Linked DNA regions of Homo sapiens: region 1 is linked to region 2. The links come from fine-mapping of genetic effects on gene expression. A gene starts in region 2. The other region holds a variant in brackets. All regions are shown on one strand. Distances are from middle to middle. Region 1 overlaps HEATR4 (HEAT repeat containing 4). Region 2 holds the start of NUMB (NUMB endocytic adaptor protein).

Evidence for each region. PIP is the estimated chance that this variant, and not a neighbour inherited with it, causes the effect.
Region 1: its variant is the best candidate, but not a certain one, in a credible set for the expression of NUMB in whole blood (INTERVAL, PIP 0.74).

The regions. Positions count from the first base shown.
Region 1 is chr14:73,478,457-73,489,836 of GRCh38, forward strand. HEATR4 (HEAT repeat containing 4) reads right to left here. Exons shown (of 18, transcript NM_001220484.1): 18 at 28-386. The coding sequence ends at 150. Among named protein-coding and RNA genes, the nearest start is that of RIOX1, 6.8 kb to the right of the region's middle. The variant G/A (reference allele first, on the strand shown) is at 4,641.
Region 2 is chr14:73,450,783-73,467,212 of GRCh38, forward strand. NUMB (NUMB endocytic adaptor protein) reads right to left here and starts at 7,764. Exons shown (of 13, transcript NM_001005743.2): 1 at 7,711-7,764. It overlaps LOC101928143 (a long non-coding RNA gene), which reads right to left and starts at 12,860. Exons shown (of 3, transcript NR_135251.1): 1 at 12,693-12,860; 2 at 11,747-11,907; 3 at 10,153-10,482. RefSeq lists enhancers at 1,420-1,479, 8,093-8,626, 8,627-9,160, 12,809-12,898, 14,159-14,388 and silencers at 7,488-7,617, 7,628-7,717, 7,908-8,107.

The DNA.
Region 1 (11,380 bases), 25 kb after region 2:
AAATAGTGCGCATTAAGACATGAGGTCTACTGTTAAATAATTTCTCTTTATAAACATAGTGACAACAAGATTGTACAGTATCAATTAAAAAGACCCAATGTGACCAGGTCCACTGCTTCCTGCATCTTGAAGTAAGACAAGTGTTCAGCTTAGAGATGAGCACCTTTCTTTCCAGAGGGAGAAGACATGATGGGAGAAAAAAATGTTCTCTCTGAGAATTTACCCAGATAAAGAGCTGGGTAGTCGGATCTAAATGGTCCCACAGCAATCCTTTTCTCGGGGGAGGTGCGTAGATCTTTGACAAGTGATGAACGAACTTTGCTTCGTGTGGTTAGGCCTGGGACTGAACTTTGTAACCAGGGATTTGGTGCGCGGGGCTTCACAGGCTGCAGAGAAACATGAAAACATGAGTGCATATGCCAAACGTGTCTCATGTGAGCGGCAGAGCCCAAGTGAAGGCCTCTTTGGCTATAGGGTGTCTCCTTTTTTTTTTTCTTTTTGAGACGGAGTCCCACTCTGTCGCCCAGGCTGGAGTTCAGTGGCGCAATCTCGGCTTACTGCAATCTCCGACTCCCGGGTTCAAGTGATTCTCTTGCCTCAGCCTCTGAAGCAGCTGGGATTACAGGCGCCCGCCACCACGCCCAGCTAATTTTTTTGTTTGTTTGTTTGTTTTTTTTGAGACGGAGTCTCACACTCTCTCCCAGGCTGGAGTGCAGTGGCGCCATCTCGGCTCACTGCCAGCTCCGCCTCCCGGGTTCACGCCATTCTCCTGCCTCAGCCTCCCGAGTAGCTGGGACTACAGGCGCCCACCACCACGCCCAGCTAATTTTTTGTATTTTTAGTAGAGACGAGGTTTCACCGTGTTAGCCAGGAGGGTCTCAATCTCCTGACCTTGTGACCAGCCCGCCTCGGCCTCCCAAAGTGCTGGGATTACGGTGTCAGCCACTGCGCCCGGCGTTTTTTTTTCTTTCTTTCTTTCTTTCTTTTTTTTTTTTTTTTGAGACGGAGTTTCGCTCTTGTTGCCCAGGCTGGGGTGCAATGGTGCGATCTCGGCTCACCGCAACCTCTGCCCCCAGAGTTCAAGGGATTCTCCTGCCTCAGCCTCCCAAGTAGCTGGGATTACAGGCATGCGCCACCACACCCTACTAATTTTGTATTTTTAGTAGAGACAGCGTTTCTCCATGTTGGCCAGGCTGGTCTCGAACTCAGGTGATCCGCCGGCCTCGGCCTCCCAAAGTGCTGGGATTACAGGCATGAGCCTCCGCTCCCGGCCACGCCCAGCTAATTTTTTTGTATTTTTAGTAGAGACAGGGTTTCACCATGTTGGCCAGGCTGGTCTTGAACTCCTGACCTCATGATCTGCCTGCCTCAGCCTCCCAAAGTGCTGAGATTACAGGCGTGAGCCACCATGCCCAGAGATTATTCTTTAATTAATCTCAAAAGCCTAACACCAGGGTAGTCTCTCTCAGCCTACTCTGGCTTGAAAAGCTGCCCATTAAAAAATAAAAATAAAAGCCTAACACCAGAGTTCGATATATGTTCACTCACACATTTGTAGAAGGAACACAATATCTCTTATAATATTCTTTACTTCACTAATAAGTTATAATTTCAGCTATACATTATATGGCGTTATTACTAGTTAAGTAATAAAACCAATGTATTATTTATCTTGTTTTTCATTTCTTAAAAAATGAATAATTGGCTGGGCACGGTGGCTCACACCTGTGATCCCAGCACTTTGGGAGGCCAAGGCAGGCAGCTCACTTGAGGTCGGGAGTTCAAGACCAGCCTGGCCAACATGGTGAAACCCCATCTCTACTAAAAATACAAAAATTAGCCAGGCATGGCGCAGATGCCTGTAATCTCAGCTACTCGGGAGGCTGAGGCAGAAGAATCGCTTGAACCAGGAGGCAGAGGTTGCAGTGAGCCAAGATTGCGCCACTGTACTCTAGCCTGGGCGACAGAGAGAGACTTTGTCTCAAAATAAAAAAAGATTAATCAATTATAATGGACCATATTATTTTAATTTTAATTTTCAAGATTTATTCTTATATTTGTTATATTTATTTTTAATATTTTATTATGTTTTTTGAATATTGTATGTGAAATAAAAAATGAAGTCATGATACAAAGTAAGTCTGACCTGTACATGAATGTTTGTAGAAGCTTTATTATAATCACCCAAAACTAGAAGCAACCAAGATGTCTTTCAAGAAGTGAATGAACAAACTGGTGCACCTACACAATGGAAGAGTATTCAGAGGTAAAAAGAAACGATGCCTGGCGCGGTGGCTCATACTTGTAATCTCAGCACTTTGGGAGGCCAAGGCAGGCGGATCACAAGGTCAGGAGTTCGAGACCAGCCTGACTAACATGGTGAAACCCTGTCTCTTGTAAAAATACAAAAATTACCTGGGCGTGGTGGCATGTGCCTGTATTTCCACTACTTAGGAGGCTGAGGCAGAAGAATCGATTGAACCCGGGGGTCAGAGGTTGCAGTGAGCCGAGAACACACCACTGCACTCCAGCCTGGGCAGCAGAGCAAGACTCCATCTCAAAAAAAAAAGAAAGAAAGAAAGAAAGAAATGAGCTGTGAAGCCAGAAAAAGACATGCATTATTTTAATTATTTTAGTAGAGACAGAACTAGTAGAGTTAATTATTTTAGTAGAGACATGAACCTCTTCAAATGTGTATTGCTGCCAGGAGGTTGGCTGACGCCTGTAATCCCAGCAATTTGGGAGGCCGAGGCAGGCAGATCACTTGAGGTCAGGAGTTTGAGACCAGCTTGGCCAACATGGTGAAACCCCATCTTTACTAAAAATACAAAAATTAGCGGGGGGTGGCGGTGCACGCCTGTAATCCCAGCTACTTGGGAGGCTGAGGCACGAGAATCACTTGAACCCGGGAGTGAGATATTGCAGTGAGGTGAGATGGTGCCACTGCACTTCAACCTGGGCAACAAAGTGAGACTGTGTCTCAAAGAAAAAAAAAGATATGTATTGCTAGGTGAAAGAAGGCAGCCGGAAAAGGCAACATACTGTATAATTCCAATTATATGACATTGTGTAAAAGACAAAGCTATAGAGATAGTAAAAAAAGGCCGGGCATGGTGGCTCATGCCTGTAATCCCAAGCACTTTGGGAGGCCGACGCGGGCGGATCACGAGGTCAGGAGATCGAGACCATCCTGGCTAACAAGGTGAAACCCCGTCTCTACTAAAAATACAAAAAAAAAATTAGCCGGGCATGGTGGCGGGCACCTGTAGTCCCAGCTACTCGGGAGGCTGAGGCAGGAGAATGGCGTGAACCTGGGAGGCGGAGCTTGCAGTGAGCCAAGATCGTGCCACTGCACTCCAGCCTGGGTGACAGAGCGAGACTCCATCTCAAAAAAAAATAAAAAAATAAAAACATCAGTAGTTGTCCAGCTACTCGGGAGGCTGAGGTGGGAGGATCACTTGAGCAGGGGCAGTTGAGGCTGCAGTGAGCCATGATCATACCACTGCAACTCCAGCTTAGGCAACAGGAGGAGACCCTGTCTCAAAATAAAAAACAAAAACAAAACAAAAAAAGGAGAGGAAAAAAGAAAAATCAGTGGTTGACAGGTATTTGTGGGGAGGAAAGGAGGGTTGAATAAGTGAAGCACAGGCCGGGCACACTGGCTCACGCCTGTAATCCCAGCACTTTAGGAGGCCCACGCAGGCAGATGACTTGAGGCCAAGAGTTTGAGACCAGCCTGGCCAACATGGTGAAACCCAGTCTCTACTAAAAATACAAAAATTAGGCCGGGCACAGTGGCTCACACCTGTAACCCCAGCACTTTGGAAGCCTGAGGCGGGCAGATCACCTGAGGTCAGAAGTTCAAGACCAGCCTGGCCAATGTGGTGAAACTCTGTCTCTACTAAAAATTCAAAAATTAACCAGGCATGGTGGCAGGCGATTGTAATCCTAGCTACTCAGGAGGCTGAGGCAGGAGAATTACTTGAACCCAGAAGGCGGAGGCTGCAATGGGCCGAGACTGCGCCACTGCACTCCAGTCTGGGCGACACAGCCAGACTTCGAGACTCCATCTCAAACAAAAAAAGGGAAGCACAGGAGACTTTTTAAGGTGGTGAAACTATTCTGAATATTCTGTATAATATATGATGGTTACATGACATTATTCATTTGTTAAAACCTGTAGAACTTTACAGCAAGAAGAGTGAACCTTATTTTTTGAGACAGAGTTTCACTCTTGTCACCCAGGCTGGAGTGCAATGGTGCAATCTCGGCTCACCATAACCTCCGCCTTCCAAATTCAAGCTTCTTTTAAATGCCTCAGCCACCCAAGTAGCTGAGATTACAGGCACACACCACCATGCCCAGTTAGTTTTTGTATTTTTAGTAGAGATGGGGGTTTCACCATGTTGGCCAGGCTGGTCTGGAACTCCTGGCCCTCAGGTGATCCACCCATCTCAGCCTCCCAAAGTGCTGGGATTGCAGGCATGAGGCACCCCACCCAGCCAGAGTAAACGTTAATGTATGCAAATTAAAACAAAAACATTTAGGAAGTAAGGGGATCTAGGAAGGAATACGGACTGCATGTAGCAAGAGAACCAAATGTATAGAGCAACTTCAGTGAAGGGAGTAGGAAAAACTTC[G/A]GAAATGTGTGGAATCTATAAGACTAAATACAACAGGAATTGCACATAGCACTGTACTCTAGTTAATAAAATTGTTTCCCAGGGGAGTGTGGGTTAATATTTCTGATTTATGTATGGAAAATTGGAACATGAAGTATACTAATAATAATTGTAATGATTACCTGAAAGAAATATAGACAGTCTTCTAGTCATGGAGAATAAATTTTAAAACCTTCATTTTTTACATCAGGTGTTTTTTATTTGTTTGTTTGTTTTTTAGAGACCTGGTCTTACTATGTTGCCCCAGCTGCCAGAGTGCAGGAGCTAGTACCTATTCACAGGCACGATCATAGCTCACTATAAACTTGAACTCCTGGGCTCAAGTGATCCTCCTGTCTCTGGCCTCACATGTAGCTAAAACTACGTGTACCATCATGCCCCAACCCTCAATTTAAATACAGATTTTTGTTGCAGATGTGATGATGAAAAATAAATACTTTCAAGCACAATTGTATATTAGGATAAAATTCTGTGTGGAAGTTACTTCATAAAGGAAATGTGAGCGTTTTTTTTTAAGATGTAATTTTAATTTTAAAGAAGAGCTTACATATTTTATTTTTAAAATGGATGATGGTAGTTATCAAACTGTTATGGCATTTAGATTCAAATGGATGCATTTAAATTCAGTTTTGAACTTAAAATATCAATATGTAAAGCTGGAATACTTACATGTTTGAAATTAAACTCTGCTTCTATTTAAAATGAAAACATTTTAGATGTCAATTTTTTTTTTTTGAGACGGAGTCTCATCTCTGTCACCCAGGCTGTAGTACAGTGGCTCAATCTCAGGCTCACTGCAACCTCCGCCTCTCAGGTTCAAGCGATTATCCTGTCTCAGCCTCCCGAGTAGCTGGGATTACAGGCATGCACCACCATACCTGGCTAATTTTTCTTTATTTTCAGTAGAGACGGGGTTTTACCATGTTGGCCAGGCTGGTCTCAAACTCCCGACCTCAGGTGATCCACTTGCCTCTGCCTCCCAAAGTGCTGGGATTGCAGGCGTGAGCCATCATGCCTGGCCTCATTTTAGATGTCAATTTAAGAAGGTAAAGAGGTGACATCATTTTTCAAAATTATTTTATAGGTTATATGAGCAAGCAAAAGAGTTGGAAATTCAACATCCTAGATAGCATCTGTTACGACGTATAGCAAGACTCAGCCAATTTGTTCTGTAAAAGGCCAGATAGTAGATATTTCAGGCTTTTGGGGCCAGATGGCCTATTCAAACTGTGGTTTTTTGTTTGTTTGTTTGTTTGTCATTGAGAGGGAGTCTTGCCCTGTTGCCCAGGCTGGAGTGCAGTGGCGCGATCCTGGCTCACTGCAACCTCTGTCTCCCGCATTCAAGCAATTCTGGTGCCTCAGCCACCTGAGTAGCTGGGATTATAGGCACATGCCACCACACCCGGCTAATTTTTGTATTTTTTAGTAGAGACGGGGTTTCACTATGTTGGCCAGGCTGGTCTCGAACTCCTGGCCCCAAGTGATCCTCCCGCCTCAGCCTCCCAAAGTGCTGGGATTACAGGCATGAGCCACCACACCCAGCCTAAACTTTATATTAACATCCTAAAGTTAAACATGAAAATTCTTCTATAACAAATAATCCCATTGCCCAGAGGGAACTTCTTTCTGTCTTCAGTTTGGTTTATATCTTTCCAGATATTCAACTATGCAGGCAGACACACACACACACACACACAGACACACACACACACACACACACACACACATATATGGTTTTAAATAAATTTTACATAATGTAGGCTCATGCCTGTAATCCCAGCACTTTGGAAGGCTGAGGCAGGTGGATCACCTGAGGTCAGCAGTTTGAGACCAGCTTAGCCAATATGGTGAAACCTTGTCACTACTAAAAATAGAAAAATTGGCTGGGCATGGTGGCAAGCGCCTGTAATCCCAACTACTTGGGAGGCTGAAGCAGGAGAATCGCTTGAACCTGGGAGGTGGAGGATGCAGTGAGCCGAGATTGCACCACTGCACTCCAGCCTGGGTGACAGAGGGAAACTCTGTCTCAAAAAAGAAAAAAGAATAAAGAAAAGAAAAGAAAATTATATATAATGTATATTGGCTGCATTTTTTAAGCAAAAAATGGGACAACATATTGTTCTATAATTTGATTTTTTAACACGTTATAGACATTTCCTTGTCATTCCTTTAAATAACTATTGATTGGTAGATATTTGAGTAATTTCCAGTTTTGAAATTAAAAGCAACAACCATCTATGTGTAAATATCTTTGTACACATGGGTGAATTTTTTTTTTTTTTTTCGAGACAGGGTTTGGCTCTATTGCCCAGGCTGGAGTGCAGTGGCGCCATCTCAGCTCACTGCAACCTCTGCATCCCAGGCTCAAGCCATCCTCCCACCTTAGCCTCCCTAGTAGCTGGGACCACAGGTGTACATCACCATGCCTGGCTAATTTTTGTATTTAAAATTTTTCGGCTTGGCATGGCAGCTCATTCCTGTAATCCCAGCACTTTGGGAGGCCAAGGCAGTTGGATCACTTAGGGCAAGGAGTTCAAGACCAGCCTGGCCAACATGGCAAAACTCCATCTCAACTAAAAATACAAAAATTAGTTGGGCATCGTGGCACATGCCTGTAATCCAAGCTACTCAGGTGAGGCACAAGAATCGCTTGAACCTGGCAGGTGGAGGTTGCAGTGAGCCAAGATCACGCCACTGCATTTCAGGCTAGGTGACAAAGCAAGACTCTGTCTCAAAAAAAAAAAAAATGCTGATTTTTCATAGCAACAGCGTCTCACCATGTTGCTCAGGCTGGTCTGGAACTCTTGAGTTCAAGCAATCCACCTGCCTCAGCCTACCAAAGTGTTGGGATTATCGGTGTTAGCCACTGCACCTGGCCAGTGAATATTTTTTAAGGATAGATTTCTAGATGTAGAATTACTACTGGGTCAAAGATATCAAAATTTTGTATTGATGAATTGTCATCTAAAAGTTTTTACCAGGGTTTCTCAATCCTGGTACTATTGACATTTGGGCCCAGATACTCCTTGGTTATGGGGTTTCATTGTACATTGTAGAATGTTTTACAGCATCCCTCAATGCTAGTAGCACCCCCACTGTTGGACAACCAAAAATATCTCTAGATATTGCTAAATGACCCCTGGGGGTGCAAAATAGCCCCAGGTTCAGAACCACTGCCTCGGACATTTGCTTTCTTTTACTTTCCTTTTATTTCTCTTTCTCACCATCTCCCTTTCAACAACTCATGCTATCCTTCCTTCTTAAAGAAAAGAACTTATGAGGCTGGGTGTGGTGGCTCACGCCCGTAATTCCAGCACTTTGGGAGACTGAGGCAGGTGGCTTGCCTGAGTCCAGGAGTTCAAGACCAGCTTGACCAACATGGCGAAACCCCGTCTCTAGTGAAAATACAAAAATTAGCCGGGTGTGGTGGCCTGCGCCTGTAATCCCAGCTACTTGGGAGGTGGAGACAGGAGAATTGCTTGAACCCAGGAGGCGGAGATTGCAGTGAGCCGAGATCGTGCCATTGCACTCCAGCCTGGGCAACAGAGTGAGACTCTGTCTTGAAAAAAAAAAAGAAAGGAACTTATAATTTAGTATATATCACCCTTCCTTCCCAGTATATTTACACTTTAGATATAGATGAAGTGAAAGTGACAATGACTAATTCAAGAATAACTATCTAATGATGGGATGAATTTTGATGGGAGAGATAATTTGGGGTACTTTCCTGATAGGCTTTAAATCATACTATGTACACTTAAACATCCTGTTGGCTCTATTCATCTTCTTTTCTGTAGAAGTTTCTCTGAATAACAATGATTAGCATCTATATTCAGAATGTCAAGTTCCTGGCCCAGCGCGATGGCTCACGCCTGTAATCCCAGCACTTTGGGAGGCCAAGGCGGGCAGATCATGAGGTCAGGAGATGGAGACCATCCTGGCTAACATGGTGAAACCCCGTCTGTACTAAAAATAATAATAATAATAATTAAAAAAAGAATGTCAATTTCCTTTGATTTTTTTAAAAGGGAATTCTATTGATTCAAAACAAAAAAAAAAAGAAGAGAAAGGTAAGCAATGCTTAAAAATCAAGAAAAATGAGATGAATTAGGGAAAGTAAAGTTTATTGTTTAAAAAATACTATATTTTGGCTGGGCACAGTGGCTCGCGCCTGTAATCCCAGCACTTTGGGAGGCTGAGGCAGGCAGATCACCTGAGGTCAGGAGTTTGAGACCAGCCTGGCCAACATGGGAAACCCCATCTCTACTAAAAATACAAAAATTAGTTGGGCATGGTAGGGGGTGCCTGTAATCCCAGCTACTCGGGAGGCTGAGGCAGGAGAAAATTGCTTGAATCTGGGAGGCAGAGGTTGTAGTGGGCCAAGATAGCACCACTGCACTCCAGCCTGGATGACAGAGCAAGACTCTATCTCAAAACAAACAAACAAACAAAGCCTATATTTTTAGCAGGGCATGGTGGCTCATGCTTGTAATCCCAGGGCAGTGTGCTAAATGCAAGACGGGATAGAAAAAGGCATAAGGAAGTCTTTTCCTTGAATTTTAGGAAGGAATGTGACAAGAACATGAATTACCAGCACAATGTGTTAAATTCATGTGAAAGAGTCAAAATTCTCTTGAGATGAAGGAGATGGTAGCGCCTTTGGAGAGGAGATGGAATGTGAAATGGGCTTTAATTAGGGTTTTGACAAAAGATAATTGGGGGACAATATGCAGAGGAAACAGCCTGAGAAAACATATAAAGGATGATATAGGTAAGCAACAGCAAACAGTCTAGCTTGTAGAAGTAGAGTTTACAGGGGTTGGGGATGATAGGCTGTAACATTATGTGACTCCAGTACCTAGCTGAGGAACTTGGATTTGTCAATGGGGCACCTAGGTAGATTTTGAGTAGGGTGATGACAGGTTTGGGGCCTCAACTTGAGAAAATTCATCTTGTAGCTATCTGTGGTATAAATTGGCATGGGGGCTGATAAGGTTTGGCTCTGTGTCCCCACCCAAATCTCATGTTGAATTGTAATCTCCAATGTTAGATGAGGGACCTGGTGGGAGGTGATTAGATCATGGGGGCAGATTTCCCCCTTGCTGCTCTCATGATGGTGGTTGAGTTCTCACAAGATCTGGTTGCTTTTGTTTGAGACGGAGTCTCGCTGTGTCGCCCAGGCTGGAGTGCAGTAGCGTGATCTTGACTCACTGCGACCTCCACTTCCCGGGTTCATGCAATTCTCCTGCCTCAGCCTCCAGAGTAGCTGGGATGACAGGGGCGTGCCACTATGCCCGGCTAATTTTTTGTATTTTTAGTAGAGATGGGGTTTCACTGTGCTAGCCAGGATGGTCTTGATCTCCTGACCTCATGATCCACCCACCTTGGCCTCCTGAAGTGCTGGGATTACAGGCATGAGCTTGCTTCCCCTTCACCTTCCACCATGATTTTAAGTTTCTTTAGGCCTCCCCAACCATGCTTCCTCTACAGCCTGAGGAACTGTGAGCCAATTAAACCTCTTTTCTTTATAAATTACTCAGTCTCAGGTAGTTCTTTATAGCAATGTGAGAATGGCTAATACAGGAGCAATTAATGGTAAAGAGACAGTCGGGCACCGCGGCTCATGCCTGTAATCCCAGCACTTTGGGAGGCCGAGATAGGTGGATCACCTGAGGTCAGGAATTCGAGACCAGCCTGACCAACATGGTGAAACCCTGTCTCTACTAAAAATACAAAAATTAGCTTCGGTGGTAGCAGGTGCCTGTAATCCCAGCTACCTGGGAGGCTGAGGCAGGAGAATCGCTTGAACCTGGGAGGTGGAGGTTGCAGTGAGCCAAGATTGGGCCATTGCAACACAGAGGTTGGGGTAACACAGCAAGACCCTGTCTCAAAAAAATAAAATAAAAATAAAAAATAAAGGTAAAGAGACTAGTTGGGAGGCTATTTGTAATAAACCAGGATTTGTCTGCCTCAACACTACACTACTGACATTTTGCATCAGACAATTATTTGTTGTGGGAGGGTTGTCCTTAGTATTGTAGAATGTTTAGTAGTGTCTCTAGTGTCTGTTTACTAGATGTTAGACAACCCCTAGCCCCCTATATGACATTGCCAAATGTCCCTATGGAGACAATATCACCCCCAGTTGATAACTGTGTGTGTAACAGACCATGTGAGAAATAAAAAAGGGTGGATGTTAGACATGGGTAAGGACAAAATCTAAAAGCCTTGGCAAGTGTTTGGATAGGCTTGCAACTGAGAAAGAGGGAGTGTTGAAAGCTCAAACAGAGAAAGGTCCTAGAGGCCATGTACTGTAGTCTAATATGCTTATCATTGCTTGAAACATTGTAAACCCTCTTGGAAGGCAGTTTGGTAAAACCTATTAATAATCACAAAAAGTATCTTACTTTTTGACCCAGCACTTTTATTTCTGGGAGTTTATCTTAAATGATTCAAATGAAGACAAGGAATCTTTATGTACAAAGCAATTAGTTGCATGACAGACAGTGACCACGTTCTCAAAAATTACACCCGCATGCCACCACATTGCCTGTTAAATTAGAAGCCGATTTAAGATCCTGAGTTTAAGAGCCAAAGAAGTTGTAGCTAAAGAAACAAAATCCCAGAGGGGCAGGAAGGGCAGATATCAAGAATGCAAGTAGAGAAATTCTTAACTTATTTTTCAGAGAGAGGACAATGAA
Region 2 (16,430 bases):
CATCTTAAAAAAAAAAACAAAACAGAATACTGGGAGTTAAAACTTCTTATAACAAAGTCGCTTATATTAAAAGAAATTAAGTAAATAAACCAAACGCAGTGACTCACGCCTGTAATCCCAGCACTTTGGGAGGCCGAGGCAGGAGGATCACTTGAGGCCAGGAGTTCAAGACTAGCCTGAGCAACACGGTGAAATCCCGTCTCTACTAAAAATACAAAAAAGTTAGCTGGGCATGCTAGTTGGCACCTGTAATCCCAGCTACTTGAGAGGCTGAGGCAGGAGAATTGCTTGAACCCAGGAGGCGGAGGTTGCAGTAAGCCAAGATTGCACCATTGCACTCTATCCTGGGCGACAGAGCAGGACTCTGTCTCAAAAAAAAAAAAAAAAAAAAACAAAAAACAAATCTACACTTCGGGAGGCTGAGGCAGGCAGATCACGAGGTCAGGAGTTCAATACCAGCCTGGCCAATATGGTGAAACCCCATCTCTACTAAAAATACAAAAAACTAGCCAGGTGTGGTGGCGTGTGCCTGTAGTCCCAGCTATTCGGGAGGCTAAAGCAGGAGAATTACTTGAACCCACAAGGCGGAGGTTGCAGTGAGCCAAGATTGAGCCACTGCACTCCAGCCTGGGCAACAGAGGAGACACCGTCTAAAAAAAAAAAAAAAAAACCTACAACAAAAATTAGCCAGGCATAGTGGCATGCCCCTGTAGTCCCAGCTACTCGGTAGCCTGACGCAGGACAATTGCTTGAACCTGGGAGGTGGAGATTTCAGTGAGCCGAGATTGTGCCACTGCACTCCAGCCTGGGCATCTTTAAATAAAATAAATTAAGTAAATAAACCTTCACAAATTATCTACATGATAAAATCAAAATGTACCTGAGATGTACATATGCACAAGTGACTAGACGAAAGTATCACTATTACTTTTCCAAAGTCAAAGGTAACCAAGGCCAATCTTAAATAAAGTTACAAATTTAGCTGATTTCTGTGTCCCTGGTTGCCCCAGCTTTGCCTTTATTCAGAGCTAAGCAGTATTCTACAGTTTTTCCCTCTTCTTCCCTAATTAAACTAGAAATGTTCCAAATTAACTATAATTCACCTTAATATAATCAAGTTACCATAATTAAGATTTTGCTGTCCTACTCAGGTAATTGAAGACTTTGATCTTGGTTAAAAGAACGTAAGATAGCCTGAGCACGGTAGCTCATGCCTGTAATCCCAACACTTTGGGAGGACTGCCTGAGTTTAGGAGTTTAACAAGACCCTGTCTCTACCCCCCAAAAAAAAAACTGGCCAGGCGTGGTGGCTCACGCCTGGAATCCCAGAACTTTGGGAGGCCAGGGTGGATGGATCACCTGAGACCAGGAGTTCAAGACCAGCCTGACCAAAATGGTGAAACCTCATCTCTACTAAAAATGCAAAAATTAGCGGGGTGTGGTAGTGCACACCTGTAATCCCAGCTACTAGGGAGGATGAGGCAGGAGAATCACCTGAACCCAGGAAGTGGAGGTTGCGGTGAGCTAAAATTGTGCCATTGTACTCCAGCCTGGGCAACGAGAACGAAACTCTGTCTCAAAAACAAAACAAAACAAAACAAAACTGGGCAGCCTGTAGTCCCAGCAACTGGAGAGGCTGAGGCAGAAGGATCACCTGAGCCCAGAATGTTGAGGCTGCAGTGAGCCGAGATCATGCCACTGCATACTCCCTCCACGTCAAAAGAGCAAGACACCGTCTCAAAAAAAAGGAACGTAACTTATCAGCAAACAAGTGGGGAGAAACAGGGTTTTCGTGGGTAGAGAGGGGGAAGTCACTGAACGTTAATTACTAATATAGCAACTCCTTGGTTAATGCATTTAAGATGACTGGGGGTCTCTTCCTAATCCCATACTCCACTGGAGAGGACAAGTGGGAAAGGTTGGTCTAGTTAAGGTTGCTGGGGACCTCCCAAGAGCTGCAGAAGCAGAGATAAGAAGAGCCTTCTTCTAAATCCACATGGTCCTTCCAAGGCTCTCATCCTCTAGGACTACCACTTCTCAGTCTACTTACTTGTCTTCTGACATGCTTTCTTGAGGGGAAGAAAACAAAGGAAGAGTAATAACAAGCAGCAGAAACTGCAGAGAATGAAAAATAAGTCCATAGGAGAATGTTGCAAATAGAATCATCCTCCTTTACATATGTCACTCCAGGAAAACTGCCAAGAACCACTCATTCCTCTAGATACACTTCCTGTAGATCCTCCAGACTCCTCCCTTAAGCACGTCAGTATTCTCCTTATTCTCCCTTCATTTCAATCCTCCTTTTGCCTCAAGATTTCGAAGTGCACTTTTTTTTATGGTTTCTTTTTGTTTTGTTTTGTTTTGTTTGAGACGGAGTTTCTCTCTTGTTGCCCAGGCTGGAGTACAATGGCGTGCTATTGGCTCACTGTAACCTCCGCCTCCTGGGTTCAAGTGATTCTCCTGCCTCAGCCTCCTGAGTAGCTGGGATTACAGGTATGTGCCACCACGCCCGGCTAATTTTGTATTTTTAGTAGAGACGGGATTTCTCCATGTTGGTCAGGCTGGTCTCAAACTCCTGACCTCAGGTGATCCACCCGCCTCAGCCTCCCAAAGTGCTGGGATTACAGGCATGAGCCACCACGCCTAGCCTCAAAGTGCACGTTTAATAATCTCCAAAATATATGGCAATATTGTACCTAGTATTTAATGATATCTTATTTATCACTACCTGTGTGTTGCAGCTGAACATACATCCTAAAGCCCTGTATTGTATTTCTACCTCTTATAATAAAATTTATAATATGTTACATTACTAAAACAAATTTTCCTTTTTTTTTTTTTTCAAAACAAAGTCTCGCTTTGTCGCCCAGGATGGAGTGCAGTGGCGCGATCTCAGCTCACTGCAACCTCCGCCTCCTAGGTTCAAGCCATTCTCCTGCCTCAGCCTCCCGAGTAGCTGGGACTACAGTCGCGTGCCACCATGCCCAGCTAATTTTTTGTGTTTTTAGTAGAGATGGGGTTTCACTGTGTTAGCCAGGATGGTCTCGATCTCCTGACCTCGTGATCCGTCTGCCTCGGCCTCCCAAAGTGCTGGGATTAAAGGCATGAGCCGCCGCACCCGGCCCCTTAAACAAATTTTCTTTGCCACTAAAGGATGCACTATAATGTCAAGATTAAAAAAATAAGATAGCAAAAAAATTTTTTTTTAATTTAAGGAGTATATTGTTTTATTTCTCCCCAGCCCTATCAGGAAAACATAAAATGAGGGAGGGAAAAAGTTGGGCGGGGGGGGAACGGTTGAAGAACTATTGGGTACTATGCTCACTACCTGGGTGACAGGACCAATCATACCTCAAACCTCAGCATCACACAATATACCCATATAACCAACCTGCATATGTACTCTCAGAATCTAAACTAAAAGTTGAATTTTTTTTTAAAAAAAAAGGAAAAAAATCAGAGTTCAGAAATCTGCAGAATTCAAGATCTATTCTCTAGAAATCAAAACCTGTTACACACAACAGATGTGTTTTGGCAAGTCCAAAGTAAAATGTAGCTTTTCAAGTACTCTATTATATAAAATACTTTTTTAAAGGTAATTAGTTTAGGAAGTTTCGAAGCAAACTAAAAAACTAGATATAGGGGTTTTATACTTTTAGAGAACTAGATTTTCAGTTACCCACATTTCTATTAGAATTTATTGTACAGCGAGTTGGAGAGCAGGAAGCAGAAAAGTAGATCAGAGACTTATAAAACAAGACAAGGCTTCTCTGAAATAGAAAATAAACCTAATTAACTAGTGTTAATTGAACTTCTACTTTTTAAAATCACTTACCTAAATAAAACTTCAGTATGTGAAACTGAGTCTCACTAAATAGCACAGTTAGGATTTTGGGATTTAAAAACCACCATTTATTCAACTACAGACAACCAAATCCCACTGTAAAATTATTTGGGCAATCAAAGCTATTCCTAGATAAGTATAATCAGATGAATAATAAGTCCACTTATTAAAACCAGGTAATCAAACTGCTCAATGTTCTCAATTATGAAGAATGAACTTTTCTATTTGTCATATAGGATTTCTCATTCTTCCATCATTTGGTGTAGAACTGAATGATCTATATAAATGTACCATGACTTCAACAACAACTCTAGTGCTAAGAATAATCCACTGAACTCAATGCAAGAAATCAAAAGCTTTCCTTCTCGAAACTTATGTCACAGAAAAAAAGCAGTAAATTTATTTTGTGAAAAGTCTGCATCTGCTTTAGAACTCAGATATGCAATGGTTATATGCCTTGCAGTCTTCCAAATGAAAATAAAAATTTTAAGGAAATATAATCTGAAATAAAACTAAAAATTATTTTTGAGAGAGAAAAAAATAAACCAAAAATCCTGATGCAAAGCTATACCAACAGTTTCTTCACAATTTCATAAAACATTAATGAAGAGGTTACATAATCCCCTGGATTAAAGATTTTAAAGAAAGCTGCAAGGATCTCTTTCAGTTTTCAATACTGCTTCCTGTTCTTAACAGCCATAAAAACAGATCTAAATCAACTCCTAAATATAAACCATCTAGCTTTCAATGGAAGAAAAATCAAACCACGTACAGATAAAACATACATATTCTTTTTAAAAACACGCTGTAAATTACATTTAGGTTCCTCAAACAAGTTAAGTTTACAACATGTACCACATCCAGTTTATTCTCAAGGGAGAAAACCATTAAACAAAAGCTCCCTCTTAATAAATGATTTACTTTGTAGTTAAGCCTCTATCCCAGGTGCATTTTGCTGTCACATATTACCACTATTTCTTTTCTCTACAAAGACCTAGAAACTGTATATCTAGTTCCTTTAAAAATATCTGTATATGTTTTATATTAGTGTAAGGATAAGAAATACTTAATATTTTTACTCTCTAAAAAGGAAATATCTTTTCATTTTTCTCTTTTGCAGTGTTTCTTACTTTGTTTTTGCTTATTTTCTATACATGAAATTTTCTCAAGTCAGTCCATTTCAGTGTTGTTTACTGTCAATATGTCTGTGTATACTCAGGCTTTTACAAACAATGCTTTACGGTACAGTGATAAAAAAGAAAGGGTGAACAAGAGGGCACAAGTGAAACAAAAGCGGACAACATCTGAGAAACACCATTCAATTTCTCTGCCTCAGATTCCCTTAAGTTCTCATGCCAAAGATTCTCAATATCCAAAAAAGTTCCAGAGTCAGAGGCATAACACAATATGTGACAAGACAAACACAGGAGGAACCAAATCAGAAACTGAAGAAATTTAATGGAATATAATACTCCCAAAAAAACCTTTTTTTTTTTTTTTAAGATGGAGTTTCACTCTTGTTGCCCAGACTGGAATGCAATGGCATGATCTCGGCTCACTGCAACCTCCACCTCCGGGGTTCAAGCAATTCTCCAGCCTCAGCCTTCCAAGTAGCTGGGATTACAGGCACGCGCCACCACGCCCAGCTAATTTTGTATTTTTTTTAAAGATGGGGGTCTCACCATGTTGGTCAGGCTGATCTTGAACTCCTGACCTCAAGTGATCCGCCCGCCTTGGCCTCCCAAAGTGCTGGGATTATAGGCGTGAGCCACCGCACCCAGCTTTCAGACTTTTTTAACTGTAAGAAATATATTTTATCCTTTGGCCAGGAACTCAAAAAAAGAAATACACTTTACATTGTGACCTAGTACATACATGTAGGAGAAAAGTTTCCCAAAACAATACTTTTCCTTACCAAATGCAATGTCAGTTTATTCTGTTCTACATTTTATTTTCAATGCAGGTAAAAACTCACAACATTGATTTTATAAATTACTAATAAATCACAATCCACAGTTTGAAAAACACAGGCTAAAAATGAGTATCCTTTATAATAGGATCTTTTAGGCAATTTGCCTCTACCTGTCTCTTTAGCAGGTATTTTAAAGTTGCTACCATTATTACCGGTTTCATTAAAGTAAGTGGTTCTTAAAGTGTGGTCCTCTGACCAACGTGATCATCATTTGAGATAAATATAAATTATTGGGCCCCACCCCAGACCTACTGAAACCCCCAGGTGGGGCCAAGCAATCTACATTTTACCAAGCCCTCCAGGTGATTTTGATGCAAGCTAACATCTGCGAGCCAGGTCTTTACCTTCTATTTAAGAAGTCAGGTCTTTATCGTCTATTGAACAATCCAGTACACACGACTATGTGCCAGTCACTATCCTAAAAGCTCTACAAATACCAACTCACATGAAAAAAAAAACACCACCACCACCTTATAAAGTAGGAACTATTACTATTAGTATTCTGATGAGGAAACTGCACAGAAACTTAGCTAAGTGGTGGAACTAGAACTCAAAACTTCTTTTCACTTTAGCCGAGTATGCCTACCCTCTTTCTGATAAGTATTTACTTCTACTCCTTTAGTTCAGCTACTCCTCCCCTTTTCCCTCCCAAATTCCCCACCCTGTCAATGAACCTATTTCCTAATATTACTGCCATCATCCTAAAACAAATTTCTTTTCTAAAACAAGTCACTTAACCTTGCTTTTAGGAGCTTTGCTTTGGTCCTAGATGTCATCTTGATATTAATTACGAAACTGAAGTTTCTTCTATTTGTGAAGACCTGTGAACCTACATGGCTCCACTGTTAATTTCTCATATATCTACTGTCCTAGCCAGTTCCACGAAACCATTACTCTCTCCTCGGGCAACTTTCTTTCTCTACCTTATCCCCTCCTATAGGGATTCTCTCCCACCTCCGCCCATCTCCGTCCCATTTTGCATGACTCCTCTCCGACCGAGGGAACTTCCACTCCCCTGCTGGCTCCTCACCCCGGTCTCAAACGCGAGCCACTCCTCGAGGACTTCTTTCCTGGTCCCTTAGGGATCCTCAGAGCCGGAGCGGCCAGGCCAGTTGGGTCTCCCATCCCAGCTCAGCTATGGGGGCGCAGGGAGCTCCGGTTCTTCCCCCAGGCGGTGCAAGATCTCTACTCGTCCGACCCTCCGAAGACCTGCTGCTCCTCATCTCTCCAGGAGCCCCCTCCCTTGGACAGCCGCTTTTCTCAGGAGGGTCCCCAACCCCCTCCGAGCGTTTCCTCAGACGCCCCTACTTGGAGCAAGTCTGCTCCCTGTCACCCGGGACCCTGGCCACCCTCGGCCTTCCTACCTCCCTCGGACCGGGGCCACTCCCAGTTCCCCTGCCCCCCACCCCGCTCTCTCCTCACCGGCCGCTGCCGGGCTTCCCGGATTCCTTTTCTCCCTGGCACCCAAGCCGTCCTGGGTATTCCCAAGACACCCCGCCCTTGAAGCAGGTCGTTACAGGTCACCCCCTCTCTGGGACCCTGGCCGCTTCCGTTTCCTCAGATACCTACTCCTCACACAGTGGCCGCCGGTCAGCGCGCTAGACCGGAGCAGCTGGACGTCCCAAGGGACCTCCTGGCCTGACCCGCGCGGGTCCGGCCGTAGCCTACCTTCCTCGGGAGAACTCCGCAGCCAGAAGCCCAGCCCCTCTCCCCCTAGCCCAGTCAGCGCGAACTCGCCGCCGCCCCCGCCGCCTCCGCCCTGGCCCCGGCCCCGGCCCGGGCCCCGACCCGAAGTCCAGGCCCCCTTCCTCCGGCCTCCGCCTCCGGAGTGCTGAGCTGGAGATTCCGCCCCGCGACGGCCCCCAGATCTCTGACCCGCGTTACCGGCACTCACCTGCCGCTGCCCCCGACCAACTCAAGCGCCACTGCCTCTACCTCGGCCGCCAGTGGCCACCAAGCGCCACCACCTCCCCCATGACAACAGGCCCACCCTCTTTCATACTTCTAACCTATCCATTGGATAGTGGGGCGGCAGCTCTCCTCTCTGATTGGTTTAGTATACCCGCCCGTCATCGCTCTTTACCGCCCCTTTTCCTAAACCCGGTATTCGCCCCCGCCCGGACCTGGAGCGTCCTAGCCCAAGCTTTAGTTGTAATTGGTTGAGGGTTGGGCAATTCGAAGTTATGATAGGCTGCTAAAAGTGTCTGTTAAGCTAACTGGCAAGAGACGTGACGGTTAAGGTTGATTCACGCTTGTGCACAGTTTGGTTGCGCAGTAGAAAGCAAAGGAGGGGCAGACGCTCACATTCGTGGTTACCCGGGAAGGGTTAAGTCTTTGTTGTAGAGTTTTCTCTGTAAACTTTTCCACTTCTCCAGCTCACTTCCTGCAAGGAGAAGCTTATCTCTGCTAGCTTTATTCATAGGGGTAGTACTTACAAAACACCAACATTAGAGGTTGTGTTTAAGAAGTGTTTCCAAGCCCTGGGGAGAAAGGTATCAGAGAGATAAAAATGTCCCCTTCTTTTCTTTGGTCTCAATGCATCCAATTTCATTGAAGTTCTTTCCAGGAGCCTCAATGCTAAAGGGCAAAGCGCAAACTTTCATTTAGCAGAAATCAGTCAACTTCGGTTGCAATTATAAATGTCGTCAATAAACTGAAGTGGCGTATTGAGAGTTCTCCAGCTTCCAGATCCACTCCTGGCTGACCCCTGCCAATTGACCAGACAGCCATTAGCAACTTTTTTTTTTTTTTTTTTTTTCTGTGAGACGGAGTTTCTCTCTTGTTGCCCAGGCTGGAGTGCAATGGTGCTATCTCGGCTCATCGCAACCTACGCCTCCCAGGTTCAAGCGATTCTTCTGCCTTAGCCTCCCGAGTAGCTGGGATTATAGGCATGAGACGGGGTTTCTCCATGTTGGTCAGGCTAGTCTCGAACTCCCAACCTCAGGTGATCCGCCCGCCTCGGCCTCCCAAAGTGCTGGTATTACAGGCGTAAGCCACCGCGCCCGGCCAGCAACTTTCTAATAAGCGGGCCACATTATACCCTTTATGATGCTCTGGAAATGAGAATTCTGCTTTCCCCCACCTCTCACTGCCACTTTGTTTTTCTGTTCAGCAGTTCTTAAATAGCCCTACTAGCTGTGTGTCAGATACTTTAAAAGCTTCTCTCTCTCTCTCTCTTTTTTTTTTCTAAACCTCTTCCTAGCAGTCTAAATTAGGGCCATTGAATGAATTGCCGGGTTGTGTGTGTGTGTGTTTTTTTTTTTTCCTCACTTGGCACAATGCACAAGAATAAATGATTGCATTTTTTATTCACTTGGGTACAAATCACAGTAGGCATTTTTGAGAAATCTAATGTTGCTATAAAAACTCTTGTGCTCCTAGAAATATATTCATCATTAGCTTTTTGTTTTTCCTTTTTTTTCACCCACTTTTCCTGCTCCTAAATAACAAAATGCTGGTCTGATTACTCTTTCAGTTTCTAAATCAGATTTAAATGTACTTTCTCACAACCCCACCTATGATACATATACCCATGGGCCATGAAACAACACCCAGGGATAGTTTAAGACACTGTCAGGCCGTGCGGTGGCTCATGCCTGTTATCCCAGCACTCTGGGAGGCCGAGCCGGGCAGATCACCTGAGGTCAGGAGTTTGAGACCAGCCTGACTAACATGGTGAAACCCCTGTCTCTGCAGATGGTGCCACTGCACTCCAGCCTGGGCAACAGAGTGAGACTCTGTCTTAAAAAAAAAAAAAAAAAAAGACACTGTCAAGGAGGCATTCACCTCAAGGATGTGGACTTTGGAAATGTGCTTTGTCTCTTTCTTCTTTCTGCTAACCCTTTGTCTCATATTTCTTCTATTTACTAACCTCCTTGTTCTTTGCAGAGCAAGCTACAAAGAGTCTAAAACTGTATGGTTTATTATTCAGAAAAATATTGTCTTTTTTCTAGCCTATATTTTTAGTCAAGTTTAAATAAAGTACATACTTCTATCACCAGACTAAGCAGAAATTATTCCTCCAGTAACTATACATAACAATAAAGTGCCTTTTCCTAGTTATTTTCCGGAACTTTCCTCCCCCTCCTCTCTTCCTCACCTTCCAATTTAGAAATAACCTCCCATTCAATTCAATGACTCACAAAAAGCCTGTGAAAGGAAAGTGGAAAAGCCAAAATAACTTAGAGATGTCTGAATCATTCAGCTGAAGGAAAGATCAGACATTGACCATGATAAGATAGACGCCAAGACATAAGGCAAGCCTGAGCTAACATCCCATAACATGTGAAGTAATGCAAATGTGAAGATGCCCCAAGAAAAAGCAAATACCAATATGTCCTTTTACACAGCCTTTTAATATATCACCAGCAGCTTGCTTCTCTCTAGTCTTGGCAGTGTGCCATGCTACCAATTTTAGAGCAAGTTAGAAGACAATTAATGTCCTGACAGATAGGAAACAATAACGTCATAGGAGGACATGACCATTATTATGGTACTTTGGGTAATAATGGCTCTTGCACAGCCATAGTGACTAGGTGCCATAGAAAACATAGAATTAGGCCAGCCTTGCTAAGAGGACTTGCCATCTAAGTTGAAGAATGCAGCGAAATTACTATCACAAAACTGGGTGGAAAATTGTCACAAAAGTCAGCCGCTATTTCATACACTAAAAAAAAAAAAAAAAAGAAAGCATGTATAAATGCTTTTGCTCATATACACACATCTATCATTCCTATTCTTTGTGAATATCAGTTAAGAAAGGACATATAAAATAAATATGTTACAACCCAGTAAGTAGTGGGAAAACCTTAAGGAAGGTTTCAAGGAACATGCCTTGAAATAACAGAAGGCTATTGTGTTATCAAAGACTGTGCAGTACCGGAGGGGTTATTGCTTGTATCCCTACATTTTGCTTTCACGTGCACAAGGTAACCCTATCATGTAATTACTCCATCCAGCTTTTTTCTTTTCTTTCCTGTGTTTTTTGCTTCTCTACCATTCTCAGGGCTCCCTCTCAGAAAACAAGAACACTGGAGTCTGGGAGTCTGCAGCTTCCTGTTGCATGGCTGGCTGTGGAGGTCCTGCAGATGGTATCTGTTCAGAGCCACTTGGGCACGACCAAGATGGCAGGTACATTCGGGGCAAAAATAGCATTTATAATCCCAATTAAGCAGAAAATAGAGGACTCAGAGTGATGTCCAATATCTGAGGAGTGATATAGTGTGCCTTGGGCTTTCCTGTACACTAATGCTGTTTCTCCTGCTCTTTCATAATGTCACTTTTCAAGGGAAAAGAATCCAAGTCTCTTTCCATTTCTATTTTAGCCCACAGGGGCAATCTCACTAGGGAAAGGATCCATTTTTTGCTTTTGGATTTTCTTCCTCTGGATTCTACACACGATTCCAATTCCAACTAGATTAGAGAAATAAACAACCGGTGGAGAAGAAAATCGCTCAGATAGCAGACAAGGGCCAGAACTGCCTGCCACTAGCAGTTGGAGGCAAGCCAAAATATTTGATAAGAGGTAGCTTCCTGAGTTAGGGATCCCTGAGGGTGGAGGCTGACAAAGATGAAGGGATTAGAGAGAAGGGGAGGGAAAAGGAGGGAAGAGGAGGAGATGAGGGGGCAGGAGAGAAAAGGGTAAGAAAAGCTAGAAAAACAGTCAAAAAACCCAATCAGAGTGCTGAGCCAGCTTACAGTCCTGCCTTGCCTACCCCCTATCCCCACCCATGTGGACTTTACACTAGGTTGCATAATTACACCAGCAAAGTGCAGCCTCTGCCACTGGTTAAAAGGGAAAGCGTGCCAGGCTCCAGCCTATGGGACCGTTGTTCTGCTGCCACCTGGAAATCCTCCCAGAGCTCAAAGCCTGCTGCTCTGGGCAAAGCTGACAAGGAAGGACAGATTCAGCAGCCAACCAAGGAGCATACCTTCATTTGATTTCCTTAAGGCAAAAGCACTGGCTAAACAAAGGGAGACTATCTGGGAGAAGGTGTTTTCACCCTTTCAAGCTGGGGTGCTTTCACCACCGGGAAGTGCCACGCTGCTTTCCACGCTGGAACAAGGTACTGTGGTTTCAAAGTTCAAGGCTCTGTTTCAGGGATGGGAAGGAAAAAAAAATCAGTGAAAGAAGGTGTTCTGGTCTCTCAGGCAGAACCATTTGTTATTTGATTCCAGAGCTCATGTAATTTTTAAATACCACACTATGCATTTTCATTACTAAATGCATTCATTTTCATCCTCAAGAAAAGTGTATGCCCCCTTCCGCCTGCTTTACATAATATGGCTTGAGCGCTTGTAAAAATGGATGGGCTGTAGCTCTGAGTTCTGCCATTGTGCTATTGACTGGAGCTCCTGGTTACTATCACCAGATCTATGGGTGGATCAGCCATTCTTCTGCAGCAGGGAGTGGACCGACTCAAAGCACTTAGCACCATTTAAACTTTTGTCCATCTCTGTTTTTATGCACACAAAGAGTTTCCTGGAAACATGGCTATCCTCCAAGGATTTCAGAGAGTAGAATTCTTCCAGAACTGCAGTGTCCCAATCACTTGGAACCTCATGAGAAAGCAGACTTAAACTCAGACCCTAGAACCTCGAACTTAGTATGTTCCAAAAGCTTTGGCTCTGCCATTTACCAACTGTGTAATTTGGGGAACATTGATTCATCACCCTAAAGCTTCATTTTCTTCATCTATAAAATGAGATACATATTAGCTATCTTGTCTTGCATAACAAATTACCCCAAAACTCAGTAGCTTAAAAGAACGTTTATCGTCTCAGTTTCTGTGGGTCAACTCTCTGGCATTGGGTCTCTTATAAGACCACAGTCATCTCAAGCTCAGTTGGGACAGATCTGCTTCCTGCCTCACTCACCTCGTTATTGTTGGCAGGACTCACTTCCTAAGGCCTTGGTTCCCCAGGAGCTGTTGGCCAGAAGCCTCCCTCGGTGCCCTGCCTCATGGGCCTCTTCGTTGAGCATCTCACAACGTGGCAGCTTACTTCATCAGTGCAAGCAAGCAAGAGCAAGAGAGAGGACTCACCAGAGACAGTAATAGCAAAACAGAAGGCACAGTCTTTCGTAATCCAATCACAGATGTGACATCCCATCACTGTTGCCACATCCTGTGAGTTAGAAGTAAGTCATTAGGTCCAGCCCACACTCAAGGAGATTACACAAGGATGTAAAGACCAGCAAGAGGATCATTGGGAGCTATTTTAGAAGCAGCCTACTCTAAGATAATAATAACATCTAGGGTTTGTTTAAAATTTAAATTAGAGACTGCATGGTGGCAGCTACTTGGGAGGCTGAGGTGGGAGGCTCACTTGAGGCCAGGGGTTTGAGGCCAGCTTGGGCAACATGGTGAGACTCCTCCATCTCTTAAAAAAAAAAAACAAATATATGTGTATATTTTTAAATATTCAAAAATCAAATTAGAGAATATGTTCAATTCGGGCCAGCATATGTTATGTAATATATAACTGTTATATATAATAACTATTATTACCATTAATATTATTATTGACTATATAATGGCTGGTTTTCTCCCCTAGCTCCTAGAAGGAACCCTTTTATGAGGAGTAAATGAAATAATATACATAATTCAGGACCTGACATGTAGTAAATGCTCAATAATCATTAGTTATTGTTAACATTATTAATAGCCGGGCACGGTAGCTCACGCCTGTAATCCCAGCACTTTGGGAGGCCAAGGCGGGCGGATCACAAGGTCAGGAGATCGAGACCATCCTAGCTAACACGGTGAAACCCCATCTCTACAAATACAAAAAAATTAATTGGGCATGGTGGCGGACACCTGTTGTCCCAGCTACTCAGAAGGCTGAAGCAGGAGAATGGCATGAACTCAGGAGGCGGAGCTTGCAGTGAGCAGAGATCACGCCACTGCACTCCAGTCTGGGCAACAGAGCGAGACTCCATCTCAAAAAAAAAACCAACATTATTAATAAACATGTGATATTTGATATTCTCTCCAAGCTACTGGAAGGAAATACTATGAACTCTCATTACTTTTCCAGGGTGGCCTTATTTCCATATGTTTTGTTCAGTTTTTCCATTAGCACCCTATACTCACCAGAGCACAATTCTAGATTTGGGGTTCATAAAATATGACCACCAAATCCATAACACAGTCTAATTTCCTGCCTGCCCTATACCAAGAAGGGTATGCACAAAACCAGCAAAATGGGCTAATTATGGCAGCACCTCCTATATGCACAAAAGTCTGAGCCTGGCCCCAACCAGAATCCAGACAGAAGGGATTGTGCCTGGGAGAATGAACAGAGACTTCGCTATGTGACCTTTGTCCCTTTTAAAATATGGTCATCATTGTGCAGTCTACTCAGTCAATCCTCAACTAAGAATGAGAGAAAGAGGGACCTACACAGGCCCTACAGATGGGATAAGGGTGTCCAAGAAGACATTTTCACACCTGGGTTGGAAGTAATAAGAACCCATAAAAATAAAGAGCAATTTTGCAATTAGAAAGTTGGAAGAAGAGAGTCCAGTTTGCAACATGAAAGAAAGATCATAAGAGGCTGGAGTCACCCTTTAGGGCTGGGTTGAAGCTGTCTTCCTTATAAAGGTGGAGGATATTGAGGGTTGGCCTGTGGCCAGGAAAAATGAGGAACTATAATCAAGAAAACCCCATTATTTTTGCTTTGAGTCATTTCTCAGGGCTCACCCATAATTATTACATAAGAAAGACAGAAAAAACAAAAACCTCCTAAAGTGTAAATGATCCTTAAACTAAAAACACCGTAGAAATACAAAGATCCAGGCCGGGTGCGGTGGCTCATGCCTGTAATCCCAGCTACTTGGGAGGCTGAGGCAGGAGAATCACTTAAACCCGAGAGGCGGAGGTTGCGGTGAGCCGAGATAGCACCATTGCACTCCAGCCTGGGCAACAAGAAAGAAGAAACTCTGTCTCAAAAAAAAAAAAAAAAAAGAAAAAAGAAAAGAAAAGAAAAGAAAAAGAAAAGAAAGAAATACAAAGATCCAAGTTTTTGCAACTTATCTGTCTCTCTCTCTCTCTGTCTCTGTTTCTTCTTCTCCCACCCATATTTGCACATGTTCTTTCATTTCTTTTCCGCACAGAAGAAAACTACCCTTACAAGGAAATGCCTTAGGATCCTCCAGGCTGGAATTGTTTTCAGATCAGGAATCATCTTCTCTAGCAGTCTCCACTGCAGCTCTACAGGATTAGAGCTCAGTATTCACAGATAATGACAGTTTACACCTCTCCCTCTAAATCAAGTCACCTGTGCAGCTGTGATTTAAAGAGTTCGGATGATTTTCTGAGCTGCACTAGCCCTGGCCCTTTCCTCTCCCGAAATGTTCCCAAACATTACCAGATTTGTACACAGAAAGGCTCAAAGCAGAAGTTGCTGGGAAAGTTCTGTAAACATGAAGGGGAGATGTACACCAATATCAAGTTCCTCTTCCTGTGGCTCTGGTTTTCTCTCCTTCCTATTCTCTATTCTGTGTTTCCTCTGTGTCTGGGACAGAGGAGACTTGTATGTTTCCATACCTGTTAATAGCCAGAGAAAACTTTGTTCGGTCCCTTGGCAGGTTAGCGGATTTTAGAAGGGAAAGACAGGGTAAAGAGATGAGGACTCGCCCCCAGGAAGTCTGACTATACAATAGGAATGGTGTATTTATTTATTCAGCCCTTTCCTACACTGCAGTCATTTCATTTCACCCTCAGGATGTGTATTTAGTGGTAAGCTTTCTTTCTTTTCCTGTTAGTTTCCTGCAAAAGGACATCAGTGTCTTCCTCATTGGAGCAGCTGATAAGAAGGATGTTGTTGCTCAAATAGAGACAGAAAAACATATTTCCTATCACAGACCCAGGCCATCCCAAGGGCATGGAGAATTAGACCAGGTTGTGGAAATAATAGAAGAACCTGATTTTCATGCCTATTTCCCTGGTGCCATCTTCCTCCCTGAAATACTCTGCAATAATTACACCTTCCACTTAAGTAGGATTTCACACTTTTCCAAAGTAGCATCACGTTGTACGGAAGTAGAGTTGGCTGCACTGTAGCTGGCATAGCCTATTAGTTACTTTGGAGGGTTTATATGAAGAGGCAACTTTGGGTTTAACTTTAAGTTTTGGGGAACTCATACAAATAGCATAGGTTTACCCTAAGTTGGATTCCATTTGCTAGCTCCTGCCTCTCCTACAGATCTCATCTTCAAAGTTACTATTATAGGGGAGGCTTCCTGTTATCCCTCTCCCAGCCACATTGAGTTGGGTGCCCCTCTTATACACACTGCATTTCCACTTTGGATACACATATCCCGTGGGTAAACTTGCTCAGTGCCTAGCCATCCAGCAACATGTCGGCACTGTAATACCAGGGACAACAACCTTCCTGCTCATGGCTGCCTAGCATAGGGCCTGGCCCACAGTAGTTCACTAAATATTTAGTGAATGAATGAGTGAGTCAGGAATTGTCTCTAGGAGTAGCCTTGCCACCTGACACAATCACTTATTTTGGGGTAGTGCTCTGGGAGTTATAAAAAAGGCCTGTGCTAATTATCACATAATGATCACCGGTGGTTATAGTATTTAGTAGGCAAAAGCACAGTGG